2 linked regions of the Homo sapiens genome follow. The protein of the gene in region 1 interacts with the protein of each later gene in a pairwise test. Each region holds a gene or a part of one and is shown on either strand. Other genes may lie near its edges. The genes, in order: MAL and TMEM213.

The links.
Region 2: the proteins of MAL (region 1) and TMEM213 interact in a two-hybrid assay, tested with the Homo sapiens proteins (one large-scale study listed by BioGRID).

The regions. Positions count from the first base shown.
Region 1 is NC_000002.12:95,051,890-95,054,604, forward strand, and holds the end of MAL (myelin and lymphocyte protein), read left to right. Parts: intron 1-1,491; coding exon 1,492-1,566; 3' UTR 1,567-2,103; downstream 2,104-2,715. UniProt on the Homo sapiens protein: May be involved in vesicular trafficking from the Golgi apparatus to the cell membrane. Plays a role in the maintenance of the myelin sheath, and in axon-glia and glia-glia interactions.
Region 2 is NC_000007.14:138,800,672-138,804,126, reverse strand, and holds part of TMEM213 (transmembrane protein 213 precursor), read right to left. Parts: intron 2,801-3,455; coding exon 2,729-2,800; intron 1,228-2,728; coding exon 1,058-1,227; 3' UTR 1-1,057.

The sequences.
Region 1 (2,715 bases):
TTCAATCCCAGACCCGCCCAACCACAGCATGCCCAGTCCAGGGGATACTTGGGTACAGGGAGGCACCTCACACCCTCTCTCACACAGCCTGGTTTTGGAAGCAGCCAGCCTGCCTCACATCCACTGTGTGGCTACTAATTAGGGTCTGTTCCAAGCTGAGCTCCTCCCTCTCTCCTTTGTGGGTGGCGGAGCTGCTTTGCCAAAGGGACCCCAGGGATGGGTGGAAGTCGCCTGGGGCGAGATGGAAATTTCTGGAGAAATCTGGAGGTTTCTAGATTATACAATGGTGGGCAGTGATGGCTACAGTTTAGGGAGAGGGCTTTCTGAAGCCAAAATTTGCCCATTCGTGCCCAGCTCTACGTGTTCCCAGTGGGCCATTTCTTGACCCCACTTGGAAAATGAGTCTCCACTGCTCTTCCTGCTGGGGACTTCCAAGGTGCTTCTGCCAAAGGCTTTCATTGGTCTGGAATGCCCACCTTTTATGGAGGGCTGCCCACTGGTGTCTGACTGCTCCTGCCCAGATACGTTCTCTTAAATGTGTTATTCAATAATTCAGCTTACTCACCGCCTCCAGGCAATGAGGGAAAGGGCTTGGCCAGGTGTAGGGGCAGGAGAGCAGGCACCCTGAGGGCTGGGATTGATGAGCATTTTCAGGAGTCACAGAGGCGTAGCCGCCCTAAATGGACGTCGTGCCTGAGCTGGAAACTCTTGACCCCTAACCAAGGTCACAAAACCAGGTGCAGAGATTGGACTTGGCAGCAGGCAGGCCTTCAGGGAGTAGGGTGATGGGAGCAGACAGTGCCCAGGAGGACACAGCAAGTCCCCAGAAAGCAGGGCCATCGCTCCAAGGGCCACAGTGGCTGACTGGATGGTCCCAACAGTAAGGCCCCTCCTTTAGACAAAAGCTCAAAATCCCTTCTCCCCTTCTCTGTCCCTCACTTCCTATGAAGTCTGGCTCTCTCAGCCACACCTGTGATATTAAGAATCCTAAAACAAAATAATGATAGGGTGAGAATGTCCAGGCAGCATGGAGACTTTCACCAGGGCCAGCAAACCCAGGTATTTACAATCTCTCAACCGAGCTACCAGGACCACAGCTGGAGGGCGCTGGTCTCACTGGTGTTGGGGGAGGAAGTTGTCCCTGGAGAGTTACCTGCCTGAGATGCTTTCATTGGAGGGGTCTTTGAGGACTCCATCTCAAGTCAGCCGAAACCTCAAGCTGAGACGAATGTGATGCTGGGTGATAGTGGAGAGTCTTACCTTCCACACCAGATCCAGGAGACTGTTAGGTCACATGGAGCTCTGTACTGAGAGGATTTGGTGCACACCTGGGCTCAGCAGGGAGGGCGTCCATGTGAGGGTGAGAAGCAATGACAGCCCAAGCTCTCTGGGTCTGGCCCCCCCTACGCCACGTGGGGCTGGATGCAGTGCAGACGCTGTGCCTCGCCCTCCCTACACAAACCCATTAACGGCCATTTCTCTTGGTTCCAGGTGTTCTCCTACATAGCCACTCTGCTCTACGTGGTCCATGCGGTGTTCTCTTTAATCAGATGGAAGTCTTCATAAAGCCGCAGTAGAACTTGAGCTGAAAACCCAGATGGTGTTAACTGGCCGCCCCACTTTCCGGCATAACTTTTTAGAAAACAGAAATGCCCTTGATGGTGGAAAAAAGAAAACAACCACCCCCCCACTGCCCAAAAAAAAAAGCCCTGCCCTGTTGCTCGTGGGTGCTGTGTTTACTCTCCCGTGTGCCTTCGCGTCCGGGTTGGGAGCTTGCTGTGTCTAACCTCCAACTGCTGTGCTGTCTGCTAGGGTCACCTCCTGTTTGTGAAAGGGGACCTTCTTGTTCGGGGGTGGGAAGTGGCGACCGTGACCTGAGAAGGAAAGAAAGATCCTCTGCTGACCCCTGGAGCAGCTCTCGAGAACTACCTGTTGGTATTGTCCACAAGCTCTCCCGAGCGCCCCATCTTGTGCCATGTTTTAAGTCTTCATGGATGTTCTGCATGTCATGGGGACTAAAACTCACCCAACAGATCTTTCCAGAGGTCCATGGTGGAAGACGATAACCCTGTGAAATACTTTATAAAATGTCTTAATGTTCAATACATTTGTTGGGTGTTTTTTGGGTTTGGGTTGAATTCCTCAGCATCAAGAATACCATCAATTCAGCTTTCTTTCTGAGGAATCCTTTGACTTAACCTGAATCTCAAGAGACAGCATCAGGTGGCAGTTCAGACGACGGACACTGTGTGTGCCAGGCCACTGCACTCTCAGAGCCCGGTGCTGGGGAGCCCACCCTCCCAGCTACCTGCCCAGATGGCTTCCCCTCTCTCTGGAAACTGGCCAAGTGCCAGCCAGGGGCAGCTTCTCCTTCCTACAAGACACAACAGTCTGTGCCCCACTAGAACCTCCTTCCACCAAAAGAAAACACGGTGCACAAGTTTTCATTCACTCATTGTGAAGCTCATCAGCGTGTTCCTGGGCAGTCTGCTTTGTTCCCATTGTGTGGATAATACATTATTTTAGAATTTCCTCGGGCCACTCCATAGGAGAGAAAGGAGAGGAAATTACAGAGTGAAAGGAAGTACGGTGACAAGGGGTGAATGCCATGTTTCAAGTCTGAGATGTCTGGGTTGAAAGGAGATGGGATGATTAGGAAGGAGGCACTGAGTTAGGAATCTGGAAAGCCCAGCTCTGTTATGAAACGCTCCCTTA
Region 2 (3,455 bases), on another chromosome or scaffold:
TCCCTGGCGTGTTCTAGGGGAAGGCAGTGAAGGCTAAAACTTGGGCACCGGCAGGGAGAATAGGTGGGACAGGAGAGCCGTGGAAGACAGGATGAAGCCAGAAGGAGAGCTGGAGAAGGACCTGAGGTGGGGGTGAAGATGGTGGGAGTGTCAAGGGGATTCTCACATTTTTATTTTTAACTTTAAAAAGTTTTTAAACAGAAACAAGGTCTTGCCATCTTGCCCAGGCTGGTCTCGAATTCCTGGGCTAAAGTGATCCTCCTGTCTCAGTCTCTCAAAGTGCTGGGATTACAGGCATGAGCCACCATGCCCACCTGATCCTCACATTCTTTTTTTTTTTTTTTTTTCTGATACAGAGTCTTGCTCTGCCGCCCAGGCTGGAGTGCAGTGGCATGATCTTGGCTCACTGCAACCTCCGCCTCCGAGGTTCAAGAGATTCTCCTGCCTCGGCCTCCCAAGTAGCTGGGATTACAGGTGTGCACCACCACACCTGGCTAATTTTTGTATTTTTAGTAGAGACAGGGTTTCACCATGTTGGCCAGGCTGATCTGGAACTCCTGACCTTGAGTGATCTGCCCACCTCTGCCTCCCAAAGTGCTGGGATTACAGGCATGAGCCACCATACCTGACTGATTCTCAGATTCTGAAATGACAGTTAAGCCCAGGACTCAAGCCAGGGACAGAAGCAGATAACCTGGTTTTGGTGAGAAGGTTATGCACTTGCTTCTGAAAATGTTGATGATGAGACTAAGTCTTATAGTTTCTTGTGCACCTCCCTTGGTGCCTAGAAGAAAGGTTAAAACAGGATACATTACAGAGGGACTATCTTGAGAGAGGAGTTACCTGGGCACAGCCCAGGGGCCCTTGGGAGTGACATGCAAGGGCAGCACTGGCTTGCCTTATTTGGTTCTCCCGCTCTTTCTTCTTTCCCTTGTAAAAGTAACTGAAGCTTAAAGGTGAAAATGACTTAAATAATAGAAACCATGTTAGCCTTACTCCCCTTCCCCATTAGCCACAAATTGGTGGCGATCACCATTTTGTGCACCGAGCCTGGGTCTCACGCTTGCAAGTCCTTGGGCTCATCTGGAGTCAGCTTCATCAGTTTGTCCACACAGAGCAGGATGAGGGTGAGGAACCAGAGGCTCCAGCCAACAGCTGCCGCGATCCAGCCGTACTCGTCCACTCCTGTGCGGCAGCACCGGGCTGCTTGTGGGCAGAAGTCCACGTCTGGTGGGGAAGGGACAGCAAGGACGACGGCATGCACCACCAGCCCTGCCCAGGCTTCTCTACCATTAATATTAACAGAACAATCACAGCACGGTAGCTGACACTGATGAGGCCTACTACGTGCCATGCACTGTGCTGCGTGCTTTTACACGTTAGCTTATGCCTTCCTCACAAAGCGACAGGTGCGACTTTTATTCCCATTTTACATGAAGAAACTGAGGCTGTAATTTGCCCAAGATCACAAGATGGCAGAAGAACTCAAACGCAAGTCTGCAGGACTCTGAAGCCATACTCTTAACCTCTATGTATTATTCCCTAATACCCCTTCCTTTTTTTTTTTTTTCTTTTTGAGACAGAGTCTCACTCTGTTGCCCAGGCTGGAGTGCAATGGCATGATCTCAGCTCACTGCAACTTCTGCCTTCTGGGTTCAAGCAATTCTCCTGCCTCAGCCTCCCAAGTAGCTGGGATTACAGGCACGCACCACCACACCCAGCTAATGTTTTGTATTTTTAGTAGAGACTGGGTTTTGCCATGTTGGCCAGGCTGGTCTTGAACTCCTGGCCTCAAGTGATCCACCCACCTGGGCCTCCCAAAGTGCTGGTATTACAGGCATGAGCCACCACGCCCAGCCTATCCTTCGTTTTAAGTGCCTAAGTTAATGCATTCGGTCATTCAATGAGGGCAGGATAAAGGGAACCAGACAAAATAAAGTGGAACTTTCTCTTTTTTTTTTGAGAGGGAGTCTCACTGTGTTGCCCAGGCTGGAGTGCAGTGGTGCAATTTCGGCTCACAGCAACCTCTGCCTCCCAGGTTCAAGCAATTCTCCTGTCTCAGCCTCCCTAGTAGCTGGCACTACAGGCGCATGCCACCACATCCAGCTAATTTTTTTCTATTTTTAATAGAGACAGGGTTTCACCATATTGGTCAGGCTGGTCTCAAACTCCTGACCTTAGGTGATCCACCTGCTTCATCTTCCGAAAATGCTGGGATTACAGGCATGAGCCACTGCGCCCAGCTGCAAAACTTTCTATTAGCTAGACATGCATAATAGTGGTTGCTCTATGAATTACTGAGCGCCTTGTGGCTAGAAGTAGGCAAGAAGAGGAAAAACGTGCATAGAAGAAGAAGAAATATGTATGCCAAGGACGCCAAAACCAAGCTGTTGCATTGGGTGGAAGTTGGACTAGATGATTTCTTATGGCCTTTCCACCTCCAAACTTCTTCAAGCATTTGAACCTAGGGCATTGTTAGCTGCTGACCTGGGATGGGTCATTAAAGCAATCTGTGTCAAAGATTGTGCACCTAGATGGGGATCAGAGCCAAGAAAGCCTTTCAGACCTGCTCTGCAAATAGTTCTGGGACAAACCACACTGGTGCACAGGAAGGCCAGGCAGGCCCTTGCCCACTTGACACCAATCAACGGAAAGCGGGGAGGCCTTTGTTTCCCTCCCAGGCTGAGGGCCAGTTCTGGGGTTAGAGCAGTTGGCAGGAGAAGCTTACTGAGGCACTGCTCCAGGGTCCCAGGGTCTGGGTGGTGAGCGGTCAAGCTTGAGCTGTTGCTGCTGCTTGCTTCTGGAAGAAAAGATAGGAGATAGTCTGAGGCACTGGCAAAAGCTATTCCCAGGCATAGATTTTGAAATGTTTTTTGTAAATCAGTAGTGAGTATTATGAAAGTATTATAGAAGCTCCCGCATGGGCATATTGAGGCTTTCTGCAACAAAGCTAACTCCCTGTTATGGACCGAATTATGTTCCCCTCTCCCAAGTTTCATATATTGAAGTCCTAACCCCAATGTGATTGTATTTGGAGATGGGACATTCGAAGAGGCAGTTAAGCTTAAATGAGGTCCTATGGGTGGGCCCTAATCCAATATGGCGGGGTCCTTATAAGATGAGGAAGAGGCCAGGTGCAGTGGTTCACACCTGTAATCCCAGCATTTTGGGAGGCCGAGGTGGGCAGATCACCTGAGGTCAGGAGTTCAAGAACAGCCTGGCCAACATGATGAAACCCTGTCTCTACTAAAAATACAAAAGCAGCCGGGCGTGGTGGTGCATGCCTGTAATCCCAGCTACTTGGGAGGCTGGGGCAGCAGAATTGCTTGAACCCAGGAGGCGGAGGTTCAGTGAGCTGAGATCACACCATTGCACTCCAGCCTGGGTGACGAGTGAAACTCCGTCTAAAAAAAAAAAAAAAAGAAGAAGAAGAAGAAGAAGAAGAAGAAACATCA